Linked DNA regions of Homo sapiens. The protein of the gene in region 1 purifies or fractionates together with the protein of each later gene. This does not show direct contact. Each region holds a gene or a part of one and is shown in the gene's direction. Other genes may lie near its edges.

Region 1 (6,470 bases):
GTATCTTTCTGGGAGCAGTGGCCATGCTGTGCAAAGAGCAAGGGATCACTGTGCTGGTGAGAGCCGCAACATGGCTGGGGCCTGCTTTTTCTGTGTGTCCTTTTCCCTCCTATAAAGACATCTGGGGCTGGCCCTGCCTCTGTGGCGTTCTCCACGCCTACATCCCATTGCTGGCCTGAGGTGATAGACCTTTCTGGACAAATGGCTTTCGCTGTCACAATTCTGGCATTGCAGATGGAGAATTGACTGACTTTCTTGACAGTCATGTGCAACTGGGGAGAAATGGTGAATGAGGAGTTCTTAGGGAGCCATGATGAGTGCTCTTGAGAGGCCCTGTAGAAAAAGATAAAAGAATGGTTTGAGTTTTCTGGGATGCTTGTACATATTTCAGCAGTCCTAGATCACCTAGGACTGACCTCATCAATGGTTTTGATCCTGGATCTAGAAAGGCTGGTGGATAGTTTAGAAATGAAGGAACAGGGCCGGGCGCCATGGCTCACGCCTGTAATCCCAGCACTTTGGGAGGCCAAGGCGGGCAGATCACCTGAGGTCGGGAGTTCGAAACCAGCCTGACCAACATGGAGAAACCCCTTCTCTACTAAAAATACAAAATTAGCCAGGCGCGATGGTGCATGCCTATAATCCCAGCTACTCAGGAGGTTGAGGCAGGTGAATCGCTTGAACCCAGGAGGCGGAGGTGGCGGTAAGCCGAGATTGCACCATTGCACTCTAGCCTAGACAACAACAGCAAAACTACATCTCAAAAAAAGAAAAAAAAAAAGAAAGAAGGAAAAGATGAAGGAACAGGAGTTCTGCAGCCACTCAAAGCCTCACGTGCACACACATTCTGTCTCTCTTCTCGTCATTCCTCCACCCCCAGCGGTTACCTATGGTTATAGTTAATCACCACCCAAGTGCAACTTCAAGCAACGCTGGAACCAAAGTGTTCCATGGTCACAAATGTTTGACCTGAAATTACAAGATTAATAACTAGTCTAGTATTTAAAGGAGAATCTGTAATGGTGCTAATGTTTCTAGTGGGACTTTGTTCTCAGAGAACTCTTTTTATGCCAGATGTGCCAGGTAATCACGTGTTTTAACTTCGAGCCTTGAAGTCTCTCTGTGTGTAATATGTGTATACACTGTATTCTCTTGGGGTACATTGTTTTCCTGGAAAAAAACTGTACCTCGGCTTCCACCGGCAGTGTCAGGGGGGTGGGGGAGGGCTCTCTGAAGCGGAAAGACATCTACCTTTTCAGTCTGATCTGAGTAGATGCTAGGATTAAAGACCCAGGAAAGGAGAGGTGTTGAAATCCATTTTTCTTTTTCTCCATTCTAACCAGTTTCCTGCTTTCCATTGCTTTCCATTATTAGAAGAAAATATAGAAATTAAGGTTGTGAACAGAGGTAGAGAAATGGAAAGATATGGAATTTTTTTTCCCTTTTTTTTTTTTTTGAGACAGAGCCTCACTCTGTCACCCTGGCTGGAGGGAGGGCAGTGGCGTGATTACAGCTCCCTGCAGCCTCAACGATCCTCCCACCTCAGCCTCCCAAGTAGCTGGTATAGTGTAGGTGTGTGCCACCACCCCAGCTAATTTTCTAAAATTTTTTGTGGAGATGGGGTCTCCCTGTGTTGGCCAGGCTGGTCTCAAACTCCTAGCCTTGGGGTTACAGGCATGAGCCGTCACGCCTGGCCAAGTTGTGGGATTAGAATGATCATATAGAAATAGCTTGGAAAGGAAAGAACAATTAAAGCTGTCTGGGGCTTGATACAAGTCAAGGCAAAAATTAGTGTTTTATTAGGTTGTATCTATTAAGATTAAGCTAGCAAAGAGATGGTATAGGGAGAATTACCATAGAAAGATACTTGAATTTCATGAGTTAATTTTTTTTTAATTTGCTCTAAAACAGTGTTTTTCAACCTTGGCACTATTAATGTTTTACAGCAGACAGTTCTTTCTTGTGGGGGCTGTTCTGGGTTTGTGGGATGTTTAGTGGCGTCCCTGGTCTCCACCTACTAGATGCCAGTGGGACCTCTCAATTGTGACAACCTAAAATGTCTCCAGACAGTGCCAAACACCCCCCTGGAGGGCAAAATCGTCCCTGAGAACTGCTGGTTTTAGAACCTTTCCCTAATACGAAGTGTGGTTTGAGGACCAGGAGCATCAGCAATATCTGGGAGAGGGTTAGGAATTCAGGATCCCAGGCCCCACCCCCTCCCCAGGCCTGCTGAGTCGGAATTTCCATCTACAAGGTCCTCGGGAGGCTCCTCTGTGCAGTACTTTATTTTTTATTTTATTTTATTTTATTTTATTTTTATTTTTATTCGAGACGGTTTCTCTCTTGTCGCTCTGGCTGGAGTGCAGTGGTGCAATCTCAGCTTACTACGACCTCCACCTCCCAGGTTCAAGCAATTCTCCTGCCTCAGCCTCCCGAGTAGCTGGGATTACAGGCACATGCCACCACGTCCAGCTAATTTTTGTATTTTTAGTAGAGACAGGGTTTTACCATGTTGGCCAGGCTGGTCTCGAACTCCTGACCTCAGGTGATCCACCCACCTCAGCCTCCCAAAGTGCTGGGATTACAGGCGTGAGCCACCACGCCAGGCCTCCTCTGTGCCGTTTTTCAGGAGCAGGAGAGAGTTCGGTTGAATTTACATGAATAAAGATACAGTGAAAGGTAGCTATTCTCAAAAATTGGATTAAAATGGGGCCATTTTGATGATGCATTTAAGAAGGAAGGGGGCAGTCTTGTGTTTGGCTCAGGCCTCTTCACCACATGAACCTGCCACCCCTTGGTAACTGTCCTGCAGCTCACAGGAAAACTGTGAGAAGACAATGGCTGCTACGCAGGGAGCATCTGCCTTCTAGAAAGTGGTTTTCAACCAGGCAGAAACGGTCTTCTGTGACCCACTAAGATCATGTCTCACATGGGTGAATAAAATCAGAATTCTTTGAACTGATTAACCCAGCACTGGCCCATGTATTAGATAATTAGTGGCTCCCAGCATTTCTGGGAGAGGGTTAAGTAGGGATGTCATCCTTGCTCTGAAAACCACAAATTACCACTGACTTCTGATGATGTGTGATCTCCTTTGCCGCAAAGAAGATCATATTAAAGAGACCCAAGTCATTTAGGGGCAGCTTTAACAATATCCACTGAGTATGTGCAGACTGCTTTATCCAGATTGGGCAGGGAGTTCTGTCGATGACACTGCCTGCAGCAGTGACATTTATAGAAAGTCCATGGCAGGAGAGAGAATAGAATCCAGGGCCCATCTCTCCTTTCGCCTGTAACTACAGGTTTAATTTTACCGGCTAGAAAGTAACTATCGTGGTGCTATTGGAAACTGTTAACATAGGTGGACTGCTAATTGAAGTTATTTGTTGTTCCCCTCATGGGTCATGGACAGAGCTGTAAATTGATAGAGGTGGCCGTCCTCCACACCACGGCCCTGCCTGGCAAAGGCCTGCTCTCATCAATGTGTGGTTTCCAAAGTCACCCTGTCCATCTCCATTCCAGCCAGCTGGAAGGGGAAACCAAGTGGGAATGTGTGCCCAAGTTTTACAACCAAACATCCAAAATGGTACGTGTCGCTTCTCCCACATTCCATAAGGCTAGAACTCAGCCCCGCAACCTAGTTTAACTGCAGGGGAGGCTGGGAGATGTCATCTAGTTGTAACCCAGCGAGAAAACTACTGGACAACTAGATTTCTGCACAAGAGATCTCCAGAGCTCCATTAGAGATTATCATGTGTGTTCATCCCATTTCTAAAGATGCCAAAGTGCACTGGCACTTAAGGTTCACTTACATGGCTGGGTTTTTGAGGTTGATGGCTGCCTTTATCTTCCAGTATGATTACTGCCCAGGAAAACACTCTGTTGCATGAACTAAAGGACTGTTTTATAGTGACCAAAAAAAGTGGGGAGGGGGTATCTCTCGAGGGCTTTTCCTAGGAATCCCAAATTTCTAGCTATCCTGAATCTTGTAGAACTCCTACACGCAGACTGTGAAATCATTACTATCAGGGGCTTACTAAATAATAAATATGATCTATTACCTTGAGCTAATTTCATAGAAACGTACGGCTGTTATGTGTTTTTTTAAAGAGCTGCAGAGGTCTTCCGTGATTCTCTAGTCTATGTGTTCCTTGTCTAGATTGAGTAATGAAATTGTGAAGTGTAATTGCTGCCTAACACAGCCAAGCTCTCCCGTGGCTGATTGTCTTGCTTTGCTTTCTTAGGGTTTAAATGCGGTATTTGACATCTTGGTGATAGGCAAATTCAATGTTCTGGAAATTGTCCAGAAGGTACTACATAAGGACAAGTCATTAGAGGTGAGTCTGTACTTTTATCTCCAGCCCAGACATGGAAAATGTCAAGTACCAGCTGATTTAAAATGCCATTCTCAAATATTCCTTGTGATTTTGAATTCTACAATAACCAGCCTTTTAAAGCACAGTGTTGAAGCAGTTCAGGCAGAATTGCTGCACATCTGTACCTGGCTCAGCCACACTTTTATGTGAAAATCAGCCACCTCTGGGGCTTTGCGATGTCCTTGCAGAATCTCGGCATGCTCAGGAACGGGGGCCTCCTCTTCAGAATGACCCTGCTCACCTCTGGAGGGGCTGGGATGCTCTACGTGCGCTGGAGGATCATGGGCACGGGCCCGCCGGCCTTCACCGAGGTGGACAACCCGGCCTCCTTTGCTGACAGCATGCTGGTGAGGGTGAGTTCTGAGCCTGCCGCCCCCTGGACTCTTTTCTTCCCCCACCAGATTCCCAGATCCCTCACCCCTCCTCCTCGTCTCACTCCTCTGCACGCCAACAAAATCCCCAATACACGCGCCACCTCCATGTTTGCTTGCGATCACTAAAGATGTTCTGGGATGAAAGCAGGTCTTCCTGAGGGGGTTGAAAGGGCATGCAGAAGCTCCTTGCATTTCCGTTCTAACAAGGAGTAAAGAGGGTGGTTCCTTCTCACATCAGGGTCCTTGCCAGTCCCGTGAAAGGGCTCCCTAACCCTGTGGCTGGGTTAAGGCTAAATATAACCTTCTTGGTGGTATCTTTAGAAGACTAGTGGTGTCAAGACTATTCTTTTAGATTTGCCTTTTTTCTAAAGGCAAGGGTATCAAGCCACAGATTCTTAGCTGTGCATTTCATAGAGACCAAAATCAAGAGAACAGCCATCGAAGCCTGTTATGTTATTGGGTGTATAGGTGACCCTGGGTCCTCAGATTTAGAGGTCACAGGCTTCAGGCAGCAAATAGATCATAGCTTTGCCAGAAATATAACGAATGTATTGCATAGTCTGATGGCTTTGCCATATTTTTATATACCAAAATCTGAATACATTTAATACATTTTTACAGACTATAGTCACATACCCAATACACGTTGGCAACATTTTATTTGATACAACTGCTTTCATTGAGCAGAAGCATATGAGTGCCTCCAAAGTGAAGTTAGTGCGTATATATGTGTTTTTTAAGTTCAGTATCAAATAGATGTTTGTTCTCCTTTTGACTGGCAGGCCGTAAACTACAATTACTACTATTCATTGAATGCCTGGCTGCTGCTGTGTCCCTGGTGGCTGTGTTTTGATTGGTCAATGGGCTGCATCCCCCTCATTAAGTCCATCAGCGACTGGAGGGTAATTGCACTTGCAGCACTCTGGTTCTGCCTAATTGGCCTGATATGCCAAGCCCTGTGCTCTGAAGACGGCCACAAGAGAAGGTAAGAGGCAGCACTGAATCTTAAGTTCCACGCTGGTTGAGTCAGAAGCGTTTTGTGAAATCCTGCGCTGATCATTTTTATGATTTTGTGGAAGTCACGTCTAAGGACATTTGTTTCAAATGCATATTTATGGCTAGGATGAGTTCCATCCATTTGGAATCCATGGCTGGCTTCCGCGGGTGGGGAGCGAGGCTGGAAGAGGAGCTACGGATGACTGCTTCATCCCTCCCTTCCCCTTTCCCTAGGAAGTAGCATTTTGCGATCCTTTTCACCATAGGTGGTAAAGAGTAATTTACGGTCAGAACAGAGAGTGTAATTGATGTGTGTTGTGCCCATTATTGCACAATTCTTCCTCAAAACACCCTGGTGAACGCTGCCATGATTCCCTCTGTTGTAGCTGGGTACAAAATAAGCCATTGCCCCAAAGAGACTGTTCTTTCTTGATGGAAAAAAAAGTTATTGAGAAAATAATTGGGGAAAACAAATGTGTTTCATGAAAAAGAAAACTGTTTAAGGTGATTTCCTTTAAGCCTAAGTGTTTATGGAATTAGATTAGTAATGTCTCAAAATAAATTAAGTTTTAAGTTTACCTGTGTGTTGAATTGGTTAGTAATTCTAAGGAGCCACAAACTTTAGTCCCAGTTCCCTTATCCACAGAAAATGGGATTTTTATAGAAATACTGTAGCCACAGGGCCCAAGAAGGAGCCACCAAAATTGACCTAGAGTCTTAATTC
Region 2 (5,842 bases), on another chromosome or scaffold:
CGGCTGCTTTCTAATGAGGTCTCCCTGGGATAATGGAGTAAAGCAAAGCCTTGAATTAAAGGGAAGGTAGATTCCAGAAAAGGCAGACAGTAGGCTTGTGGGAGCAGAAATAAGAAAGGGAGTCTCCTTGAGACCGAGCGCTTTCCTAACTTGTGTCGGATCAGCATCTGAAGGAGAGAAATGTTTTATGCTTAAGTTTTCGCAGATACTACGTGCTGTCTCGCCTTGAAACCTGGCCTGGCCCTGGGATTGGTGCCTTGTCAGTCACTGCTTTCATTCTATGTGGATCCTTTAGATTTGAAGTATCCAGAATGTTTATTTCAGTATTTATTGACTCTCGTTTAGGTACTTTGTATATGAATGGCTTTTTGCCCTTTCTGTCCTAGATTACCCTTTTGGATTCTGACCCTGGTCTGTAGTTACTTTAATACATGACATTTCAGAATTGCCCAGGAGTGGCTTCTTCCAGCATGCATGATAGAGGACTTTACTCTCTAGTGCTTAGCCCATAATGCAAGGATGGAATGTGCAGATAGAGTACTTGGTTTGCAGGATCTTTTGCCCACTTGAAGTGGTTATAGGCAAAACAGTTTGAGAATCATTTTCTAGTTTTCCTTATGTTTTCTTCTCAGACTAAAAGGCCAGAATATTCTCTGTGGACAGCATCCTGCTCAAACAGCATTGAAGAACTAAAAGAGTGTATGTGCTTTCATTGTTGAAGGAGTGAATTGAATGAGAAATTGTGGTCTCCTACTTGGGCTTTGAAATCTTATTGAGAAATTATGATTTCCAGATTCCAAGTTTGGCAAAGTCCAAACTGAAGAAAGAAAAGTGAATAGCAAAACATGAGAAACACTTGTCTATATAAGAACTATGTGAAATCATGTCTTTGGGGGAGAATGGAATTTAGGTCCTTCAGAATATGATAAAAGCAGGAAATTGTCAGTGCTGGAGAACTTAGTTACCTGAGGGAGCTTGGGCATGACTAGTACAGCATAAGGGCTGTCTGCTGTGGGGTTTTGGAGACATTCAATGCATTACCCAAGAGTCTTAGGGATTCTGAATGAAATCGCTCTTTACTCAGGGTATTCTTTTTTTTTTTTTTTTTTTTTTAAGAGATGGAGTCTCGTTCTATTGCCCAGGCTGCCGTGCAATGGTGCAATCTCGGCTCGCTGCAACCTCCGCCTCCTGGGTTCAAGCAATTCTCCTGCCTCATCCTCCCGAGTAGCTGGGATTACAGGCACATGCCACCATGCCTGGCTAATTTTTGTATTTTTAATAGAGACGGGGTTTCGCCATGTTGGCCAGGCTGGTCTTGAACTGCTGACCGCAAGTGATCCTCCTGCCTCGGCCTCCCAAAGGGCTGGGATTAGAGGCGTGAGCCACCACGCCTGGCCCTACTCCAGGTATTCTAATAGCAACAGGGACTGTTCATCTAGTGCCTACTGTGTACCAGGCACTGAACTAGGTTTTAATTTGTGTTAATCCTTACAGAACTTCGTTTTACACATGGGAAACTGAGGAGGAATGCAGTTTAAGTAACTTGCCCAAGTACACGTAACTATAACTGACAGGGCTGGAATTTGAACACAAATATGTCTGACTCCATATTCTTTCTGCTACACTTCTGTCTCCTTGACAACACTTAGTAGCAAAACTTTAGCATGCAAAATTTTTCTACTCACTAAACTTTTAATCGGTCCCTTCCACAATTTTTTTTTTTTTCGAGACAGAGTCTCGCTCTGTCACCCAGGCTGGAGTGCAGTGGCATGATCTCAGCTCACTGCAACCTATGCCTCCCAGGTTCAGGCGATTCTCCTGCCTCAGCCTCTGGAGTAGCTGGGACTACAGGCATAAGGCATGGTGCCACCACACCTGGCTAATTTTTTTTTTTTTTTTTGAGATAGAGTTTTGCTCTTGTAGCCCAGGCTGGAGTGCAGTGGCATGATCTCGGCTCACTGCAACCTCTGCCTCCCGGGTTCAAGTGATTCTTCTGCCTCAGCCTCCCAAGTAGCTGGGATTACAGGCATGTACCACCACGCCTGGCTAATTTTTGTATTTTTAGTAGAGACAGGTTTCGCCATGTTGGCCAGGCTGGTCTCGAACTCCTGACCTCAAGTGATCCGCTTGCCTCGGCCTCCCAAAGTGCTGGGATTATAGGTGTTAGCCACCATGCCCGGCCTAATTTTTGTATTTTTAGTAGAGATGGGGTTTCGCCATGTTGGCCAGGCTGGTCTCGAACTCCTGACCTCAAGTGATCCATCCACCTCAGTCTCCCAAAGTGCTGGGATTACAGGTGTGAGCCACCACGCCTGGCCTTGTTTATTCTTTTTTTTTTTTTTTTTTTGAGACAAAGTCTTGCTCTGTCACCCAGGCTGGAGGGCAGTGGCATGATCTCGGCTCACTGCAGCCTCCGCCTCCTGGGTTCAAGCGATTCTCCTGCCTCACCTTCCTGAGTAGTTGGGATTACAAGCACCTGGCTAATTTTTGTGTTTTTAGTAGAGACAGGGTTTCACCATGTTGGCCAGGCTGGTCTCGAACTCCTGACCTCAAGTGATCTGCCTGCCTCGCCTCCCAAAGTGCTGGGATTACAGGCGTGAGCCACCGCATCCAGCCCTTATTTATTCTTTTAAATAAATAATGGTTTAGTAATCTTACTTTATATGAATCTCACTCCATTTCAACCTATTGACATTCCTTGGACCTTGACGATCCTGGATGGAGTTTAATGTACAATTGGCCAGTTATTTGGCTTTTGATGGCCTATTTGAGAACTGGATCCTGAAAAGACAATTTCCAGTGTCAAGGAGTACAAAGCATGATGTAGTGGGTTCTGTGTGAAGCTCTAATGGAGTTTCGAGTTGCTCTTTTCCTGCCAAGAGGCAGTTGTGGAGAAAGGAGATAACTAGTTTATTTTATTCATCCTCTCACCTGAATTGACTGGCAGTAAATATGGTCAGTATTAATACATGTGGTTGGCCATTTCTATTTAGAACTTGTAGACAGGAGTGAAGATCAGGGTTTTCTGTCAGGGGATTCGTGTTGCCACTAGAGCCTTGGGAATCTTCTCAGTGTTTAAAATGTGGGAATGAGCTGATTTATATCAGGGAGCAAGCTATGGTAAGCCAACTTTTGTAATGGTGATTTCTTATGCATTTTCTAGATGAGGAGAGGATAAACAGACACATAGAGTCTCTATTAATCAATTGAGCATTTATTGAGTAACTTGCATATTCTGCATTTTAGAAGATGCAGAAGTAGTCATAGTTTCTGATCTTAATGAGATTAGTTAGTTAGACAAGGCAAACATGATGCATAAAACAATAGTGTATCAGGCAATGCTAAAGTATAACTGTCAGAAGAGTTCAGAGAGGAGGAAAACCAATAAATCCAGTTGTTGTTGTCAGAAAATTTTTTTGTTTGAAGTGAGAGTTGAGTGAGCACTGGTAGAATGGAGAGGATTTGGACAGGAAGAGCAGAGGTAGGCATACCTTGGATGTGTTTATCTCTTTACAGGGAATTTAAATTCACTTTTTAAAGGAAAATGTAATATGTACACATGATAAATTCAAATTGTACAATGAAAAATGTGACTATTCCACCCATTCCAGTTGTCTTCTCTTACTCTCGAAAGTCAATCACCATTACCAGTATATTTTCATAAATACTTTATTAATCAGTATAAATATATACATATACATCCCTTTTTAAAACACAAATAGAGGCAAGCTATATATATATACTGTTCTATACCTTGATTTTACTACTTAATATCTTTCCATACTGGCACATAGAGATCTTTCATTTTTATTTCGAGAGACAGAGTCTCTGTGCCAGATTACAGTAGCATAATCACAGTTCACCATAGCCTTGACCTCCTGGGCTCAGGTGATCCTCCTGAGTAGCTGGGACCACAAGCGAGCACTGCCACTACACCTGGCTTTTTTACTTTTTGTAGAGATGGAATCTTGCTATGGTTGCCCAGGCTGCTCTCAAACTCCTGGGCTCAGGTGATCCCTTGCCTCGGCATCCCAAAGTGCTGGGATTATAGGTGTGAGCCACTGCACCTGGCTTTCACATTCTTTTCATAGTTATTTAATATTCTACTATACAGGTATACCATAATTCATTGTAACCTATTGTCTATTCATAGACATTTATTATTATTATAAATAATAAAATGCAGTGAAACTCTTTTTTTTTTTTTTGAGACAGAATCTCACTCTGTCTCTCAGGATGGAGTGCAGTGGTGTGATCTTGGCTCACTGCAACCTCCGCCTCCTGGATTCAAGTGATCCTTTTGCCTCAGCCTCACAAGTTGCTGAGATTACAAGTGTGTGCCGCCACACCTGGCTAATTTTTGTATTTTTAGTAGAGACAGGGTTTCACCATGTTGGCCAGGCTGGTCTTGAACTCTTGACCTCAAGTGATCTGCCTGCCTTGGCCTCCAAAAGTGCTGGGATTACAGGCGTGAGCCACCAAGCCTGGTGAAAACTCTTATATGTACATATTTACATACTACTGCAAGTCTACTTGTAGGATAAATTCAAAGCAGCAAGGGACTTCTGATCATCAGCTATGATAAGGTTGGATGTGGTAAGGGTTGGTTTTTACCTGGTGGTGATTTGAAGGGGTTATAGGAGCATGATCCATAGGAGCTATTTCTTCATTGGGACCTGTCCAAGTTACTCAGACAGGTGGCTACCACAGGCTGAACATTACCATCTTTCTTCTTTAATTTTTCCTTCCATGTAGACAAACCTACCTATCTTCAAGCTAAAGGAGTCCTGCGTACGGCGGCGCTACAGTGACTTTGAGTGGCTGAAAAATGAGCTGGAGAGAGATAGCAAGGTATGGCTTTGTTCTCTGTGTGGCATCTTTGGAGGAGGAGCTCTGCATAGGCTGAGTGGGCATACAACCACAGTCTATAAAGTCTTGAAGGGAATGAAGAGGGTGAACACATTCTTATCCATCAAATCTCAGTATTTTAGATCGGGGGGATACCTTTTGAAACTTGAAAGTGGTAAGTTCTGGCTGGGCACAGTGGCTCACGCCTGTAATCCCAGCACTTTGGGAGGCTGAGGCGGGCGGATCACCTGATGTCAGGAGTTCAAGACCAGCCTGGCCAACATGGTGAAACCCCGCCTGTACTAAAAATACAAGAATCAGCCAGGTGTGGTGGTGGATGCCTGTAATCCCAGCTACTTGGGAGGCTGAGGCATGGGAATTGCTTGAACCTGGGAGGCAGAGGTTGCAGTTAGCTGAGATCGTGCCACTGCACTCCAGCCTGGATGACAGAGCAAGACTCTGTCTCAAAAAAAAAAAAAAAAAAAAAAGAAAGTGGTAAGTTCAGGACAAGTTTTTTTTTTAAAGTATTACTTCACTTAGTCGCTAGTAAAGTTGTACAACTTAATTCCTGTAGGTGCTAAAAATGGAAAGTCTAGTGTCAGGAAAATCCTAGCTAAATTCTTGAATGGTAGTGGCTTGTTAAGGAAAGTGAGGATTATTTGGAGTTTATTTCCTTCTTTTGAGGTGGTAAACCTGTCTTCCCACAGAAACGGATTAATTTTTGACCTGAGCCATCCTGACTGTTCTTATGGTCTTAGTTCTTGCAAGTTGCTGGCTGTGGGACAGGATGGACCCTATGCCTAATAAGAAATGAGGTACACGGTGCTTTACCATCTCATTCCCACTCTGTCTCTCTCCCATGTGGCTGGAATTTTGTGTGTGCCTGCAGATTGTAGTACCACCACTGCCTGGGAAAGCCTTGAAGCGGCAGCTCCCTTTCCGAGGAGATGAAGGGATCTTTGAGGAGTCTTTCATCGAAGAAAGGAGGCAGGGC
Region 3 (6,470 bases), on another chromosome or scaffold:
CAAGAGCTCTCTTCCATTTGTATGTGTCTTCTGGCTCTTTCCACAAATAAGAAGCTATTTCTAGAACCTTTTATTTGATGATTAGATAAGATCAAGTGAGCTGATTTTTCAACTCTAGACTTGAGAGAAATGAAAAAATAAAAAGTTTTAAATGCGGTGATCGGGTATCATGTTTTAGTCGGCAGATTACTGTGAAGCTCTCTCCTTTTGTACTTTCCTTTACCCTGGGGGAGGAGGGAGTAGCATTATAAATCAGAAAAGCAAAGTACATGGATTGCATATCCTAAAGCAAAATAATTGAATTACATATTTTACATCATGGTCGTACCGCCTTCGAGGCTAGGAACTTTCTGTAAAAAGTATAATGCAGGGAACAAGGAGGACAGGTTAGAAACCTCTTTGGCAGAACTCCTTTGGCATGAAAAACAAAATTAGCACATTAGCACTAGCATCCAGTTCTTGTTCAGTAAGTAGCTGGAGTTTACTTTTTGAAAAAGAAACAGGGATTTCAGAATGTTCCATGTTGTGTGCTTGAAGCCATTCGTTATAGCATTTCATTCTGAAGACCAAATTTAAATTTCTTAAGATTTGTATGACCAATTAAAAACTTTTTTTATACTTAATGAGAGTAGTAGTACCCCTACTGGAGACACAAGATAGTTATGCTTCAGTTTTATAAGTAAAAGTACTATTCTCCAGATCGAATGGGATTTTCTGCATAGAGAGGTAGAAATAAAGTTATGACAATATCTTTTCTTTCGAGATGGGGGGTCTCGCTCTGTTGCACAGGCTGGAGTGCACTGGTGCGATCTCGGCTCACTGCAACCTCCGCCTCCCAGGCTCAAGCGAATCTGCCACCTTACCCTCCAAAGTAGCTGGGACCACAGGCGTGCACCACCATGCCCAGCTAATTTTTTGTAGTTTTTGGTTTCGCCAAAAGACGAAACGGGGTTTTGCCATGTTGCTCAGGCTGATCTCCAACCCCTGGGCTCAGGCTGTCCACCCGCCTGGGCCTCCTAAAGTGCTTGACAAAAATATCTTAAAATCATGGAGGACTTTTTCTTTTGAGATACTTTAGGTATCTCTCTGAGATGATCTCTTCTCATTTTGCATGATGGAGGATGTGGTAATGAAAAGGGAAAGACCGGGTGCAGTGACTGGCTGGGCGCAGTGGCTCACACCTGTAATCCCAGCACTTTGGGCGGCTTGAGACGGGTGGATCACTTGAGGTCAGGAGTTGGAGACCAGCCTGACCAACATGGTGAAACCCCTTCTCTACTAAAAATAGAAAAATTAGCTGGGCGTGGTGGCGGGCGCCTGTAATTCCAGCTACTTGGGAGGCTGAGGCAGGAGAATCGCTTGAACCTGGGAGGCAGAGGTTGCAGTGAGCCGAGATCGGCCACTGCACTCCAGCCTGGGTGAAAGAGCCAGACTCTGTCTCAAAAAAAAAAAAAAAAAAAAAAAGAAAAGGAATGAAAGGAGACAGTCTTCATAACAGTTGTGGCAAAACAAGCTGCTATGTGTCATACATGGAAAAATAAAGAAAATAGACAAAATTTAATTATTTTCCAAAATTTTCTCTAACAAAAATGGGAGATTTTAAAGTAATTCCATTTTTACTACTCCCTATCAAATGTCAGGAATTTTTATAAGGTGATATCTATATCTCTAGTTCACTTTTAGAGGTGATTGATGTCTTTATAACTGGTTAGAGGTTATCTTACTGGTATTTAACCAAACTCCTGTCTTGAGATACAATGCGTGGGGAATATTCAAGATTGAGTAATTTAAAGATATTCTTATTTTCAGAGGTTAACTCCTGTCTTTTTGTTTACAGTAACATGAAGACACAACAGAGTTCCATACTAATGTTATTTATTATTTCTTTAACTTGCAGAACTGCAAGGTGTGGAATATTTCTGGCTTCTAGTCCAATGCCAAGTGTGTGACCTGTGGTGAGTTACTTAATTTTTCTGGACCTCAGTTTTTCATCTTGTAAATGGAGTCCTTTACATGCATTATCCTGTTTAATACTCTCATCAACTCAAGCTAGGGTAGCTACCTAGAGAGGGACCTAAACAAATCTCAGTGCCTTCCTGCTGCTCTAAGATAGTGAAGAGAACAAGGTGAGCCCAAGAAGTAGGAGACCTGGTTTCTGGTCTCTGCTTCAAGCACTTAATTCTTTTTTTTTTTTTTTTTTTTTTTTTTTGAGAGGGAGTCTGGCTGTCGCCCACGCTGGAGTGCAGTGGCGGGATCTCGGCTCACTGCAGGCTCCGCCCCCCGGGGTTCATGCCATTCTCCTGCCTCAGCCTCCCGAGTAGCTGGGACTACAGGTGCCCACCACCTCGCCCAGCTAATTTTTTGTATTTTTAGTAGAGACGGGGTTTCACTGTGTTAGCCAGGATGGTCTTGATCTCCTGACCTCGTGATCCGCCTGCCTCGGCCTTCCAAAGTGTTAGGATTACAGGCGTGAGCCACCGCGCCTGGCCAAGCACTTAATTCTTAGTGGACCAAAGTTACTTGGCCTCTGAAGGCCTTAGCTGCCATTAAAATGAATTTAGGAATGTAAGTCTTTTGCTTAGAGGTTAGATCAAATGGACTTTTAATAAGGTGGTAAATTTGATAATATAACTCTGTCCCCTTTAGACATTTACTCCATTTAGAAATAGTACTTGTTGGTGGCAGGGACATGTGTTTCTGTGTAAGTGAACTGGTTTTATTATTACTCAGGGTGGGGGATCTTTAACATTATCTGGAAAATAAAAGTGGTTACAAGTTGAGGTGGTGGAAATTCAGGTTTTCTAAGAATGGGGGTCAGTTCACTAGGCATTTATCAAGCCTCTGCTGTGCTCTTGTACTCTGCTGAGAATGGAAGGCACAAAGATGAGTAAAACCTGGTTCCTTCATGGAGAAACTCCCAGTCTGCACGTTGGCAGGGTGTTAGTGGAGGAGGTAGGAGAAGCAGCCATACTGCCTCAACAGCGCTTTGCATTTTTGTTTGTTTTGTGAAGTATTTGTAAGCATAAAATAATGCATGTCATATATGTTAAGAAACAACAATAAAAGGACAGAAGCAGAATATCAGCCATGCTATTGAAATGTCTCCCTTTGTGCTCCTTCCAGATTGTTCCCTCTATTCCTACTGCCTCCACAATCATTACCCGCTATTTTGTGTTTGTGATTTGCTTTTCTTCATAGCTTTGTTACCACTGATGATTCTTAATCTCCAAATAATATATTTGTTATAGTTGTGTTTGAATTTTGTAAAAATGCATCATACTCTGAATTCTTCTGTGACTCAACACTTTTTAAGATTTAGTTACAATGATGCTTATAGATGGAGTTTATTTTTTACTGCTGTACAGTGTTCTGTTTTATGCATGTGCCACACTATCTGTTTTCTTATTGATGGATATTTGTTTTTTGTTTTTTTCCTATTTCAAATAATGCTGGAATGAACATTCTTATACGTGTATCTTGGTGCATATGTTCATGAGTTTCTCACTGCATTGGACTGTAAGATAGCCACTAGTCACCTAGGGCTACTTACATTAAAATTTATTAAAATAAAATATTAACTATTTCAGTTCTTCACTTGTATTAGTCACATTTCAAGTACTCAATAGCCACATATACCTACTGGCTACCATAGTGGACAGTGCAAATATATAGCATTTCCATTATCACAGAAAGTTCCAAGTTTCCAGATTTTACTCATCTTTGTATCTCCATTTATTAGTATAGTACAGGAGCACCATAGATGCTTAATAAGTTGGATAATGCTGGTCATATGCCCAGCAGTGAAATTACTGTGTGGGGAGGTATCCACATCTTCATCTTCACTGGAGAATGCCAACTTGTTTTGCCAAGTGCTTATGCCAGTTTATATTCCCACCAGCTGTCTATGAGGGCCCTGGCTGTTGTATATCCTTGACTTGGTATTGTTAGACTTTTCAATTCTTGCCAGTCTCGTTGGTGTCTTTTGAAGGCAGTCCACAGCTTAAGCAGACTGCAGAGAAGTCATTCTTCCAGCTTCACAAAGCCTAGCACCAGGTAGTGAAGAAGGCACCACCTTAGAGGGGATGATCCGGGGAAGGGTAGGAGTGTTTCCTGTGTTGGCTGAGGGGGTCAGAGGACCAAAGTCCAGCTAAAGTGGAGGAGAGAGAAAACAGCAAGGAGTGGATTCACGTTGTTGAAAACTTCTCTTTGCCTTCTATGACATTTCTGTCTTTGGTAGGAACATTTTTGATAATAAGGCAAGTCATTAAAATGAATCTTCTTTGTTACCAGAGTTAATTCTGCATTTTAGTTTTGGCCCTACATTTATTTAAAGCCTGAATTTGGGGAGTATCTGCAAAGCACTGAAGGTTTTGGACATTGTCTTTTCCTGCTGTTGAAAGAGACCCTCTTCATATATACAACATTCAGGTAATTGCTTCTAAGCTTACTTGAAAGGAAGCTTATCCCTATTTTAAATGAGATTAGAAGTCCTGCCTGAGTGTTATTTTGGTCTCAGTGCCTTTCAAACAAAGGGATAAGAATGAGTTGTTAGGCTGCTGTGTGCATAGTCGCATAGTCTTATCATAAGACAAAGTTTAGGAACTGAAGGTTGTCGTTTAGCATTCAACTCACTAGAGCTAGTAAAAAGAGATTTATCTCCCCACCGCCCTCCACCCATGCCCTCTCCAGAATTTAAAAGCAAATGCACACAAAAAAACTTCCTCCTATCAACCTCAAATCCCTTTCATGAAAGTTATGGCAGATGGTTGTGATGCTACTTTGCTGTAGTGCAGATTTGGCAGAATGCAGCTAGTGCTAATTGCAGTGAGGAAGACAGGAGTCACAATCCCATCCTCTTTTGGGAATTGTCCTGTCTGCTGAAATCTCAAAGAAGAGCACTAGGAGTAGGAGTAACATTGACTAAAGCAGCTGACATTTACTGGTCACTTACTACTACATGCCAGGCACCATGCTAAGCCCTTTTTACATGCATTTTCTCATTAATCCTCACAACACTCTAGCACCTTCTCCTGATTTTGGAGCTTAAGGTGGGTAAACATCTTTCCTCAGGTTTCACAGCTAACGTGGTTAATGTAGGGCTTGGATTTTAGTTCCTTTGACCCTTAAGCTCTGCTAAGATTATCTTGAATCTCTTACCAAGAATAGATGAGAAGGACTCAGGAAAGTGCCAGGTTGACATTGAGAGAAAGTTGTACTTCAAAAGTAGTCCTTCCTTTTGTTTTGTCATGGGGAAATAAGAGGCAGGAAATGCAGCCAAGCGGGGCTGGTGTAGGTGCTGAGGGAAGTGTAGTCCTATATTTTGCAGCGAATTTCATAATTGTGTATTTTGAAGGAAAATAAAAGATTCTGCTCTTCTAGGAGCAAGCAAGAGAGTGAATGAGGAAAAATGGGTGTAAGGACCTTGGAGATCAAAATGCCCAGCGATGCAGACCGTTGCTGAAACTAGACCTTTAAAGTCATGGACATCAGCAGCTACAAGATTTAGGGGTCCAACTGGAGTGTACTTTGAAGTGAAAGCTGTGCTAATGGCTGGCTTCTCTCCAATGTGTTGAACTTCTCTCCTGAAAGCTAGATGATTTTAGTTGCTTTTTTCTTTAGTTCCGGCAGAGCATTGTGATGACCTAGGCCGTATTTATAGTTAGGATTGATAGTTTATTTACAGATACACATCTTTTTTGTGGTTGCTATTTAATTCTCTTGGTGGGCAGTTTTTATTTGACCAATTGAAGATTCCATTACTGTAACTCAGTTGGAAGAATTTTTGAAGTTTTCTTGAACAATAGTCCTTTTTATTATCTTTTTTCATAAATTGTTTTTACTAGTCAGTCAGGGATGAGGCCATACTTCAGGCTGTTTACACAGGATTGTGCTTGGCCAAAGCACCCAGAACTCAGATGACTCTCAAGGACTGACTCGTGCCAGATAAACTACAAAAAAAGCTGATAGACCCAGGACGCCAAATTAATAATGAGAATTAGAAATCCTAATAAGACTGAGATGCTTTGGTTACCTGGTCACAGTATTCTATCCCTGTAGTAGAATCTGCCCTAGAAACCAAGTTATTTAAGGTTGCTTGCTAAGCAAGGCAATTGGTTGGGTGAATTTAGTGACAACTGTTATGGAATCTGATCCACCCATCCACTTTTAGGAAAGAATTACTTAGCGGGTCAGATAGCCAGGTTGACTGATCAGGGTCCCTGTTTTCTCTGGAGAGTGGTGCAGACACATTGGGAAGTCTGGCCTTTTGGTTATCTACTTTCTAAGCTCCTTACTATACAGCACAGCATAGTGTCTCTTTCTTTTCCTTTACTTCATCTTTTTTTTGTTAGTTTCACTTTCTTCATCTGTAAATTAGAGATAATGGCAGTACCTGTCTCATAGAAGATGAAATGAGCCAACATCTGTGAAGCACATAGAAAAGTACCAGACTCAGAGTAAGCTCAAATCAG
Region 4 (6,470 bases), on another chromosome or scaffold:
TAATTAAGCAGCTTCTTGACAGCTCAGACATAAATTCTCAGGTATCTAGTGCCCAGTTGCCAACTGAGTGGTTATAGTTGTTCAACACAAGCTTTGAAAAGTGATGATTAAGATTGGACACTAGGAAAGAAGTAGAAAATACTTCCAGGTCCATAAAGTAATTATTGCACAAAATTCATGCATCAAAGTTAAGCACTTTATTGGCAGAAGAGTTCCAGCATTTTCCTCCTTCATGGCCTATGTTTTTTTTGAGACATGCTCTCACTCTATTGTCTAGGCTGGAGTACAGTGGCACAATCTTGTCTTAAAGTCATATCGTTCTTAAGATCTCAACCTCCACCTCCCAGGCTCAAGCAATCCTCCCACCTCAGCCTCCCTAGTAGCTGGGACTACAGGTGCATATAACCATGCCTGGCTAATTTTTGTATTTGTAGAGAGAAGGTTTTGCCGTGTCACCCAGGCTAGTCTTGAACTCCTGGGCCGCAGCAACCTGCCTGTCTCAGCCTCCCAAAGTGCTGGAATTACAAGCTTGAGCCACTATGCCTGGCCCTAATAACTCTTAGTTTGTTCAACAAATATTTATTGAATATCTTGCTCTACTCAAGAATTTTGGAGTAAAAACTCAAGGACTTGATTAGCTAATTTTCGGTTTTTGCATGTTAGCAGTAGCAGCTGAGTTACAGGAAAGTTGTTAGGGTTGGCCAAGGTAAAGAAAAGAGATAAATGAACCCCTGAGAAAGCTCGGGGGTACCCCAGTATACTGCAGCCCCCTACATTATTTTATTATGAAGTGCTGTAGTTGATGTTCATAATCATAAAACTTTACCTCCAATAGGGAGGGCCCTTGAGTGTTATCTAATTTAGTTTTCTTGTTTTGCAATAGATAAACTGACCCAGAAACATTGAGAACACATTAAATCATGTTCTATAGGTTGTTTGTGGGAAGTTAGCCAAGTGTATATTGCCTTTTAGAAAGCTTTCCATGCAAGCTAGTTGTAAAGTTTGGTACCTAAAAATTTTAGCTACTATTTTTCCTGCCTCTTCATTATGTAAAACACTTAATGATATGAAATAAATGAGCATTATCTCACGTAGATCTCTCCTCAGAGATTAAAGCCTATCACAATAAATATAATTACAATGAAAATATTTAAGAAAAATATAATCACGATTTAGCCATGTGACCTTGGGACTCTACTACCTGTTCTATGAAATGATAATGATAATTGTCCCTCCCTGTATGATGACTAGTTTTTTAAAAATTTTGGTAAAATACATAAAACACAAAGTATCATCTTAGTCATTTTTAAGTGTGCAATTCAGTAGTGTTAAGTACATTCACATTGTGTAACCATCACCACTGTCCACTTCTAGAAATTTGTTATCTTTTCAAACTGAAACTCCATACCCATTAAGCAAATTAATATCTTCTGTCTTTATGAATTTGACTATTTTAGGTACCTCATAAAGTGAAATACAGTGTTTGTGTGTGTGTGTGTGTGTGTGTGTGTGTGTGTGTGTGAGTGTGTGAGACTTCTGGCTCATTTCATTTAGCAAAATGTCTTCATTTCTTTTGAGTGTATATTCAGAAGTTGAATTGCTGGATCATATGATAATTCTATTTTTAGGTTTTTCAGGAACTGCTATACCATTTTTCATAGCAGCTATACCATTTTGCCTTCCTGCCAGCAGTATACAAGAGTTCCTATTTCTCTGCATTCTTTCCAGTGCTTTCTGTTTTTTTTCTTTTCCTCTTAATAGTAGCCATCCTACTGGATGTTAGGTGGTATCTCTTTGTGGGTTTGATTTGCATTTCCCTAATGATTAGTGAGTCGAACGTCTTTTCATGAGTTCATTGGCCATTTATCTTTTATCATGGCTTACTTTTGATATAACTAGTTTAGATAGAATGACTAGATTTTCACATATAATCACATATGTGAAAGTCCTGAGAATTATAATGTCTTATATAAGTGAAAGTAGTGACTATGGCTGTGTTAACATTTTTTCTGAAGTTAATAAAACTCCACTGAACAGTTAAAAGAGGCACAATTCGAGTTCTGTATAGGAAGTTATTTGTACAGTTGGAATTCGTTGTGCTCAAGATTTAAGACAATTTTGGAATACATGTGTATGTGGCTAGCATAAGGCCATAGCAGACAATACTCATGACATTGAGATAAGTAACCAAAAAGAGAACAAAATTGATTACATAAAAGGAAAAACTTCTGTATGACAAAATATTTTATAAGCCTTATTAAAAGACAGACTTGGAAATGCTGTTTAGCAGTGAATTTTAATAGTTACTGTCAGAATAATTTAAATGCTGAAAGTTTTATTTCTGATCTCATCTACTTTGTGGAAATGTACATCTAGGTGAACACATTTAAAAATTTTCGTATGTATTTGTCATATAAAATTCTTTTAGCATAAGGAAATATGTAAAAAATTACATTAGTTTCAAAAATATCTTTTTTAGATGGAAGAATATATCTTTGTTGGGACAAAATAATGCATCTCTTCAAGAATTATGGCCATAAGGAACATGTTCTTAAAGTAGATTGTTACCAATGGTAAAAAAATATTTACTAAAATGGTTACAAATGCAATGTTGATATTAGAAGTTTATGCAGTGTCATTATAAGTGAGTAGCCTAACTTCAAATGTTTTATTTTGTTCAGTCAGGTCAATTCAGTGAAGATATGATACCCACAGTGGGCTTCAACATGAGGAAGGTAACTAAAGGTAACGTCACAATAAAGGTAAGTTATTTCTTGCCGTACGCAATTTAAATTGTTAGCACAGACCCCTAGAAATTTTTCTGTTAAATTTCTGTGTTTTTACTGAAAATTTGCAGTTTTTCAGTAATGAATGTGCATGTTTCAAAAGAATAGGTTTTTTTGTTGTTGTTTTTTTGTTTTTTTTTTGGAAACAGAGTTTTGCTCTTTCACCCAGGCTGGAGTGCAGTGTCGCGATCTCCACTCACTGCAACCTCTACCTCCCGGTTCAAGTGATTCTCCTGCCTCAGCCTCCAAAATAGCTAAGATGACAGGCTTGTGCCACCACACCCAGCTAATTTTTTGTACTTTTAGTAGAGACAGGGTTTCACCATGTTGGTTAGGCTCGTCTCAACTCCTAACCTCAAATGATCTGCCTGCTACGGCCTCCCCAAAGTGCTGGGATTCCAGGCGTGAGCCACCACGCCTGGCCAAGAATAGATTTTTAATCTATTTTGTTTTTCAAAAATCAAATCTATGGCCTGAGCCTTAATGTCCATTTTGCCCAATTATTGTGGTTTACAGAAGCTGTTCACTTTCTCTGTGGCTCATCTAATGAAGTTCCAGATTTAGTCAAGTGCAGGTTTCTTTATGCTTGTTACCAGTGCTTTAGTTAAACCGGAAGCCTCTTGAAGATTAATACTGTGACTTGAGACTTTAATGTAGCCCAGTGTCTAGTGTGATGCCCTACGGAGTAGACACAATAATAAAATGATTATGGATGTGGCTTTCATGTGCATAAAATAATTTTATTTTATTTTATTTTTTTGAGATGGAGTTTCACTCTTGTTGCCCAGGCTTGGAGTGCAATGGTGTGATCTCGGCTCACTGCAACCTCCGACTCCCAGGTTCAAGTGGTTCTCCTGCCTCAGCCTCCCGAGTATATTACAGGCACCTGCCACCACACCTGGCTAATTTTTTGTATTTTTAGTAGAGATGAGGTTTCACTGTGTTGGCCAGGCTGGTCTCGAACTCCTGACCCCAAGTGATCCACCCGCCTCGGCCTCCCAAAGTGCTGGGATTATAGGTGTGAGCCACCATGCCTGACCAAAATAATTTTATACAAGAAAAACACCTATGTGGAAATGTTGGCTACTTATTTACAGGATAATTTCAAAAGGTTAGGCATTAATGTAGAACAAATCAGACGATTAAGACTTAATAGATTCTGAATTGTTGTTTTCTGTCTTGGCATTCAAATCTGGATGGTGCATGGTCCTGTAGCTTTTAAATTGTTATCATAAAGACATATGTTTTCAATAATAGAAGTATATTAGTTAACAGGCAAACTATTGCACATAAACCAAATCTTTGCTTAAGCAAAATTTTAGATGTATTGTAAATGTATTAAATACGGACTTCAAGTTTAGAAGTGGCCCCAAGAATTCCCATATTAAGAGCTTGTTTGAGGTCAAGTCTTTCAGGAGCACTTTGCCTCTAACATTGTAGAAATAAATATATCTTCCCGATCTTTCTTTTTTTCTGTTACTTCCTCTTGCAATCATTTAATTAAAATATCTTTATTAAGAATTGCCTTGTTTTGATTTAAAGATCTGGGACATAGGAGGACAACCCCGATTTCGAAGCATGTGGGAGCGGTATTGCAGAGGAGTCAATGCTATTGTGTAAGTGGTTTTTTTTTGTTTGTTTGCTTTTAAATCAATGTAGGCATCAAAGAAGAAAGTTTATTTTAGTATTTCCAGAGGCTCAATTTTTATCTCAGGCAGTGAAAATCTTTCTTAGCTAATATCCTAGTGTAATTCCCAACATGGGATTTAAAAAAAATTAATCATAGAATAAGATCTTTATGTTTTTTGTTTATGGAGCTAAGAGCTAAGGGGTGTACATGTTTTACTATCATGTATTAGTCTCTAAAAACAGTCTAGTTAAAAAGTATTAAAGGGTGCTGAGCCTTTTCTTATGACATAGTTTATTTTGGTTAATAATTTCAATAATGTAAATCTTACAAAAATTAAAAATCAATAATACTAGTTGTCATCATCAAGGCATACAGAGAAGGTATGTTGAGATCACTTCATTTTTTTAAGTTACATGATAGATGCTGCAGATCGTGAAAAGATAGAAGCTTCCCGAAATGAGCTACATAATCTTCTAGATAAACCACAGTTACAAGGAATTCCAGTAAGTATGGAATACTTGTTATTTTACATTGTAATTATATAATGATATTAATTATGGTAATTATGCAGTGATATTAATTATGTTTGAAATCAGTAACATGTCTTCATTTTTAAAATCTGGAAAACTTGCTTACCATGTATCTGCCATATACTGGGCATTGTGCTAAATATGAATCTCATAACCACGTATCTACTAAACTACTATGCAGCAGGAGCAGTGCGTAGGCCCAGGGATATAGTGATGAATGGAAATCAGTAGAAACATACTCCTTGCCATCATGGACCTTATGGTTTAGTGGGAAAGGTAGATACTCTGAAAACACTTGAATAATGCAGCTTTAAGTGCTAGGAAGAAAGGTGCAAGGGGATATGAGAGTTGTAATTTAGAGGGGAGATGTGATCTAGTTTGAGGGAAGAAGGAGGGATTCACGAGGAAGTAATGGTTGAGCTGAGATCCAAGGGATACATACAAATGTGAGGTATATGACAGTTGGAGGGGAAGAGAGTTCCAGGCAAAGGCCTTTGGGTGGGAGGAAGTGGGAAACTGAGAAGAGGCCAGTCTCTAGAATACATTTAGGAATTTGCATTTGGATTAGGAATGCTCAACCAGTAAGTATATAATGCAAATCCAAAAAATTTCCAAAATTCGAAACACTTCTGGTCCCAGGTATTTTGGATAAGGGATAGTAAACCTGTACTAAGAATAGCAGAATGCCGCCGGGCGCGGTGGCTCATGCCTGTAATCCCAGCACTTTGGGAGGCCGAGATGGGCGGATCACCAGGTCAGGAGATCGAGACCATCCTGGCTAACGCGGTGAAACCCCGTCTCTACTACAAAAAATCAGCTGGGCGTGGTGGTGGGCGCCTGTAGTCCCAGCTACGGCAGGAGAATGGCGTGAACCCGGGAGGCAGAGCTTGCAGTGAGCCCAGTGGCTGCTGCACTCCAGCCTGGGTGACAGAGCGAGACTCTGTCTCAAACAAACAAACAAACAAACAAACAAACAAAAAGAATAGCAGAATGTGTATCATAGACTCAGACTATTTTACATAGCAGTTGGCAGCCACATACTGAATTAAGAGCACCTGCATGGTGGGAGTTGAGTGAATACAAGTGTGAGCAATGAAATGAATGAGACAAGCCACCAGTTACACAAATAGGCCTTAACATTGTGGAATGTGTTAACATCTTAACTTTGTGTCTTCACATATCAAGATGATAAACTTCTGTGACTTTTTCTTGCATAAACGTGTGCTCTTAATATCTTTTCTTTTTAAAGGTGCTAGTGCTTGGAAACAAGAGAGATCTTCCTAATGCCTTGGATGAGAAACAGCTAATTGAAAAAATGTATGTCTTGAATATGCTATTTTAATAATTTGCTTCTAAATTACCATATTTTGCCCACTTGTTATGTTATTCCTAATGATCATAGCCATTTTTTTTAGGTAGATAAAAGTTGGCCTATCAGAGAAGTGAATCCTAACATTTTAGGATTGCTACGATGATTTCTTCAGTATAGTAATAAAACTAATGAGTAAAATTGAACAAAGTGAT
Region 5 (6,148 bases), on another chromosome or scaffold:
TCATCAACAAATGTTAAATTCTATCAAATGGTTTTTCTGCATCTATTGAGATGATCAGATGCTTTTTCTTCTTTAATCTGTTGCTGAATTACATTTATTGATTGTGGAGTTTTTAAACACTTTTTCATTCCCAGGATAAACCTTACTTGGTCATGATGTATTATTCCTTTTTGTGGAATTGATTTGCTAGTATTTTGTTATGGATGATGGTATCTATGTTCATGAGGAGTATTGATTGTAGCTTTTTTTCCTCACAAAGCATTTGTTTAGTTTTGGTATCACAGTAATGCTGGCCTCATAAAATGAGTTGGAACTGTTCTTTCCTCTTCTATTTTCCAGAACAGTTTGTTTACAATTGGTATTATTTCTCCATTAAATGTTTGGTAGAATTTGCCAATAAAGCCATCTGGAGTTTAATTTGTTGGAATATCTTGAAGCAATTACAGTTTCTTTAATAGATATAGTGCTATCCAGGTTATCAATGTATTCTTGAGTAATCTTCAGGAGTTTGTGTCTTTTAAGGGATTTGTTCATACCATCTAAGTTGTACAATTTTTGGATAAGAGGTGTTTGTCCAGTATTTCCTTTTTAATATTTGTAAGATTTTAGTGATGTCCTCACTTTCATTCTCAGTATTTTTAATGTGTCCTTTTCCCTTTTCCCTTGGTTAGTCTGTCCAGAGATTTGTATTAGTTATCTATTGCTGCATAACAAATTACTCTAAACTTAGAGTAATTCTTGGATCAGGAATTTGGGATTAGTTTAACTAGTTGGTTGATTCAGAATCTTTCATGAGGAGGCAATCAAGATGTCGACTGGAGCTGCAGTTTTCAAAGGTTTGACTGGAGCTGGAGGATCCACTTCCAAACTTACTGATATGGTTGTTAACTAGAGGGTTCAGCTCCTGATCATGTGGATAAGACATGAAAACTGGCTTCCTCCAGTGAGTAATCCAAGAGAAGAGGGTGACAGAGTATCTAACACAGAAGTAATGATAACCTAATCTTGGAATTGGAATGCCAGCACTTCTTCCACATGCTATTGATTTCGCATACCAACCCTTATACAATGTAGGTAGGAACCACAAAGGTTATGAATACCAGGAGGTGGGGATCATTGTGGGCCATCATGGAAGCTGGCTACTACAGAATTTATTGATTTTATTGATCTGTTCAAAGAATCAGTTTTAGATTTCTTTGACTTATCTCTATTGTACTTCTATTCTTGATTCCTGCTCTTTCTTATGTCCTTCCTTTTGCTTACTGTGGGTTTTATTTGTTTTTGCTCTTCTTTCTGTTCTTGCTGTTCTGAGCAAAGAAGGCTACTAGCTGTTGTTTTTTAAAACGTTTTTGCAGATAGATAAATCTTACCGAGAAGATGTGTATGATCTCTTTCCTGGGACATTCCAAACCATTGAACTGTTTGCAGATCACCCAGGGACATGGCTGCTACACTGTCATGTGTCTGACCACATCCATGCTGGCATGGAGACAACCTACACGGTCCTTCGTAACATAGGTACGGTTGTCTGTCAGTGATGCCAGATGATGGCACCGAGCTTCCTGTAGACCCCCAAAACAGGAGGCATGACAAAAACCCAGATATAGCCCTCAACAAGCTCAGAGTCAAGTAAGAGAGACATATATGTAAATATGTAACTATAATCAAGTATGCTATGTGCCGTAGCAGAATGCAGAGTACAGGGCTTAATAGCAGCAGTAGGAGTGAATGGGTAACAGTTGGAGGATATGAGCCAAAGTTTCACAGAGGCCATGATGCTCCAGATAGACTCAGTGGGTGAGCAGAAGTGGGAAAGACAGCTGGGGCAGGAAAGCATGTACATGGGAATGAAGTAGCACAGTAAGAATCCAGAAATGATTGGCAGATACTGATGGGATAAGTCCTCGCTGGTGAAATGAAATGACTAGTGTCATGAAAAGAATCCCCTTCTGTTGTTAATAAAACAATGAACTTGTTTTCTTTGTGCAGACAACAGGATTCCTTACTCCACCACATCTCCTGGAGTGGCATCTCACCCAGCCACGGTGCCATCTAACGGTAATGATACCCTCTCCCCATGTAAATGAGTCAACATTTCACCCCTCAAAAATGTCAGGGGCCTGACAAGTTTATCTTTTTCACAGAACGACCTGGCAAAGAGCAGCTCTATTTCTTTGGCAAGAATCTGGGTCCAACAGGAGCCAAGGCAGCCTTGGTCATCCTTTTCATCATTGGACTCCTCCTTCTAATCACCACGGTGATTCTCTCCCTCAGACTCTGCTCTGCAATGAAGCAGACAGATTACCAGCAAGTCCAGTCCTGTGCTCTCCCCACGGATGCTCTGTGAACCATCTGGTCTCCCTCAACAGGAAAGGGTGATGTCCCACAGCTGGCCAGATGGCAGCCAACAGGGAAACTGGACCAAGGCATCACTCACCAAGGAAGGTTGACACTGTATCCTGGATCAGCCTTCTGATCCTCTCAAACATCATCCAAAGCAATTTGCTTTTATTTATTTATTTTTAAATGGGCTGCGAATAATCCTCAGGTATAAAACACAGAAAAAGGAGAATGGGCATGGCTGAGAATGTCAACTCTTAGTCTATTCTTTGGTTGGATTCACTGAATAGGAGACACTCTGAAAGATATCTTTATATTCCATCTTTTATAATTCTTGAACAGTGCTTTCTTAGCTAACCACCAAAGTTTCTAGGTGAACAGCTTCTAGAAAAAGTTAGAGTGCCTCAGACATTTAACTGGAAGGGCACTACTTTTTCAACATTGTTGCATAACATGCATCCCTTGGTTCTGTGGAAAATATCTTTCTTAGGAGTTCTTGGCAATGTCTAAGTCAGTGTCTGCTGATAGAATTAGACCAAATAAATTTTTTGGAGGCTTTAACCAGCTCTCCTGGCCTTTTCCTCTTTGATATAAATAGCCTGTGCAGTGCTTGTTTTAAAAAGCAAAGTTATACGTTTTTTAAAAAATTGCTGCTGTTTTTATTCAAACCTGTAGAAATACTTGAATGTTTACAACTCACTTCATGTTACATGTTTTTACAATATGTTTCTGTGGCAATGTTTGTACTTTCAAAAATCAAGTAGAGAAATTGTATTTCTACTGCAGACTGTGGGAGGGCTGAAATCTGTAAAAGAACATGTTAGGCTCTCCCTTTATGAATCAGGGACTCCCTGAGAGTTTAGAGCAAGCTTTCTATCAGGGAGGGAAGCTTTGCAGGAGGCAAGTCTGGGCTTGAATTTGGAGTCTGATTTTTCATTCAGTTAGAGGGAATCTTTACAAGTCCTCATCTTCTATGAAATTATAACATTCTCATTGTATGAGAAACATCAGGAGGAATTTATCAATGTAGGTGACTAGATAGGAGAAGGGACCTCTAAATATCCTAGATTCTATGGCTTTTAAAGACATACCTCTTCATGGAAGGAGAAAAAAGGAAAAGGAAAGGTGAGAAAAAGATAATCTTGGTGGCAGATTCTCTTAAACCATTAAACCAGCTTTGAAAATTAATAAATAATTTCCAAGGTTCAAATGCAAAAAAATTATTGAACAACTAAACTCAACCCATTATGAGGCAATCTACACTGTCCATACCTATGCTTAGACAGTAGGTGTAAGATTGATAAAAGTAACATTGTTTATTACAAGACTGAGAAATTGCTTTTAGCTCTGGGCGAGATGCCCTGAGATTCCAATGCCAATGCTAGATGAGTGATACTGGTATGCCTGCCTTAGCAGTGGGTAATTTGAATGTCAAAGTGAGTGACAAGGACCTAAGAAATATTCTGGTGGAGGGACCTTTCACACTGTCTCATCTTCATCTTCATGAGGGGAAATGGGTAATTGGATAGAAGCTATAGTCTTAACATAAAAGGGGATGCAAATGCTAATAGTTCTGTTCATAGTTTGCTTGAATGTCATATCAAACAGCATACACAAAAGATTTTGAATTTCAATCTGCTAACCATTGACAATGTGATTTCATAGTACATGTTCTACAGTTTTCATACATGTGTAGGCTGCATAATTTCATAATTATGGTAAATGCCTTATTTATTACCCACCTTAGTAAGACAAGTTGTTCAGTTGTTTTTTTTTCTTTTCAGTTTATTTTTTTAATGAAAACAAAACCACAAAGTAGTTTGATTGCATCATTTATCATTTTAATAAAGTGTCACATAAGGTGGCTATTTGCATGGTTATTTTCACTTAAAATTATCTATCACTGAACTAGGGGAGGTGGTTAAAGTGGAATTAATTTTTAGATATTTAGGGGCTATGACTATGCCAATGACACTTGTTAGAGGAAATGAAACAAAATAGTGTATCTCCACAAATAATATGACTTCTCAAACATTGTTTCCTCAAACATAACTACACTCCTTGTTCTCAGCCTCACTCTTGAGAAAATCAACTCTGCCTTCACTTACACACATATTTCTTCCTATTACAATACACGTGTCCCTGCTCCTAGCAGGACAGTCTCTTCATTTGACTTTGGGTCTCATTGCTTCTTGCTTTCTCAAGACTTCATTCCCTTGGGTATCCATTTTTCCTCCTGCATCTTTCTATGAAACCATCAGCAATGTCCGCCATTAAAAACAGAAAGCAATGTGCTGTCTTATTTAACTCTATAACCCCCTCCGACACAGTTTCTCTCTTCCTTTGATAGCAGAACATAGAGGTATTCACACTTGGTGCCTGTACTACCTCACCCCATGCATTCCTCAGCCCATTCTGATGGCTTTCAATCCAGCGTGCCCAGCCCCCACACCCCAATCTGCTGTGGTAGAGATCACCAATCATGATGCCATTTCCAGTGGCTTCTTCTCCATCTTTATCTTACTCAACCTCTCAGCAACAAGAAACAGCTCCTTCCTTCTGAACACTCGGAGTCTCTAGTCCCTTGGCTCTGCAACATGACTCTCTGCCAGCCTTCCTTCTTCCTCAATGACTATTCCTTCTCAATCTCTTTTTCTAGTTCCTTCTCTTCTGTCTGACCTAAATGTTAGCATGCCTCAGAACTTGACACTGGGTCCTTTTTCGCTTTTTACCCTCTGTGGTAGGCTGAATATTGCCCCAAAGATGTCATGTCCTAATCCCTGAACCTGTGAATGTCACCCTATGTGGCAAAAGGGACTTTGCAGGTATGATTAAGGATCTTGAAGATAGGAAATTTATACTGGATTATCCATAATGGCCCTATATGTAATCATGAGTGTCCTTATGAAAGAGAGGCAGTGGGAGATTTGGCTACAGAAGAAGGCAATATGACAACCAAGACAAGATGCCATGCTGCTGGCTTTGGAGATGGAGGAAAGGGCCATGGGCCAGGGAATGCAAGGAATGCATCTCCAGAAGCTGGGAAAGGTAAGGGAAAGGATTTTCCTCTAGAGCCTCCAGAGAGAGGTTGGCCTTGCAGATATCTTGAAACTGATTTTGGACTTCAGAGGTCCAGAACTGTAAGAGAAGAAATGTGTGCCAACAAGTTTGTGGTAATGTGTTACCAGCCACTCCATAGTTTATTTTATCCATCCTTATGATCGGAAAACCATTTTTATGCAAACAAATTCAAAATGTATTTCTCTAACCCTGACCTTGGGCTGCAGATTCACACAAATCCTGCTTGAGTAGGGCCACTGCAGCAGTCCCCAAACCAGCCTCTCCATCATCACTACTGCTCCTTTCCACCACTGTCCACACATTGCCTCACGTTTTTCCAAATTTCATCACTTTCCTGGTTACTACCCTTTACTGTCTTCCCATTTCACTTTTAATAACATCCAAACTCTTTACCTTGGTCTTTAAGACCCAGCTTGACTTGGCCCATGCCCACTCCTCCAACTTCTTGAACTCTGCTCCAGCTTTCATCCGCTCCTATACTCTGCTAGTTCTTTCTTGCCTCAGGGCCTTTGCACATGCTGCTTTCTATGCCTGGAATGCTCTCCCTCCCTAGCTTCCTCATTCCCTCTCTGTATTAGTCGGGGTTCTCTTAGAGGGACAGAACATATATATATATATATATATATATATATATATATATATATATATATATATATGTAAGAGGATAATAATACCGGTCTTGTGCTTTAAGATGATTAATCTGCCAGTCATGTGTAGAATAGATCAT

What was found.
Region 2: the proteins of TMTC4 (region 1) and SNX12 purify together in Homo sapiens (affinity purification with mass spectrometry; one large-scale study listed by BioGRID and IntAct). This does not show direct contact.
Region 3: the proteins of TMTC4 (region 1) and HERC3 purify together in Homo sapiens (affinity purification with mass spectrometry, with the first as the bait; one large-scale study listed by BioGRID). This does not show direct contact.
Region 4: the proteins of TMTC4 (region 1) and ARL8B purify together in Homo sapiens (affinity purification with mass spectrometry; one large-scale study listed by BioGRID and IntAct). This does not show direct contact.
Region 5: the proteins of TMTC4 (region 1) and HEPHL1 purify together in Homo sapiens (affinity purification with mass spectrometry; one large-scale study listed by BioGRID and IntAct). This does not show direct contact.

The regions. Positions count from the first base shown.
Region 1 is NC_000013.11:100,635,797-100,642,266, reverse strand, and holds part of TMTC4 (protein O-mannosyl-transferase TMTC4), read left to right. Parts: coding exon 1-56; intron 57-3,412; coding exon of another isoform or gene 3,413-3,586; intron 3,587-4,244; coding exon 4,245-4,337; intron 4,338-4,564; coding exon 4,565-4,729; intron 4,730-5,532; coding exon 5,533-5,735; intron 5,736-6,470. UniProt on the Homo sapiens protein: Transfers mannosyl residues to the hydroxyl group of serine or threonine residues.
Region 2 is NC_000023.11:71,061,863-71,067,704, reverse strand, and holds part of SNX12 (sorting nexin-12), read left to right. Parts: intron 1-637; exon of another isoform or gene 638-699; intron 700-2,993; exon of another isoform or gene 2,994-3,117; coding exon of another isoform or gene 3,118-3,120; intron 3,121-4,755; coding exon 4,756-4,851; intron 4,852-5,737; coding exon 5,738-5,842. UniProt on the Homo sapiens protein: May be involved in several stages of intracellular trafficking.
Region 3 is NC_000004.12:88,593,660-88,600,129, forward strand, and holds part of HERC3 (probable E3 ubiquitin-protein ligase HERC3), read left to right. Parts: intron 1-1,897; 5' UTR 1,898-1,955; intron 1,956-4,290; exon of another isoform or gene 4,291-4,428; intron 4,429-6,470. UniProt on the Homo sapiens protein: E3 ubiquitin-protein ligase which accepts ubiquitin from an E2 ubiquitin-conjugating enzyme in the form of a thioester and then directly transfers the ubiquitin to targeted substrates.
Region 4 is NC_000003.12:5,167,822-5,174,291, forward strand, and holds part of ARL8B (ADP-ribosylation factor-like protein 8B), read left to right. Parts: intron 1-2,681; coding exon 2,682-2,762; intron 2,763-4,328; coding exon 4,329-4,402; intron 4,403-4,825; coding exon 4,826-4,919; intron 4,920-6,195; coding exon 6,196-6,263; intron 6,264-6,470. UniProt on the Homo sapiens protein: Small GTPase which cycles between active GTP-bound and inactive GDP-bound states.
Region 5 is NC_000011.10:94,109,548-94,115,695, forward strand, and holds the end of HEPHL1 (ferroxidase HEPHL1 precursor), read left to right. Parts: intron 1-1,355; coding exon 1,356-1,518; intron 1,519-1,989; coding exon 1,990-2,058; intron 2,059-2,144; coding exon 2,145-2,347; 3' UTR 2,348-4,661; downstream 4,662-6,148. UniProt on the Homo sapiens protein: Is a copper-binding glycoprotein with ferroxidase activity. It oxidizes Fe(2+) to Fe(3+) without releasing radical oxygen species. May be involved in the regulation of intracellular iron content.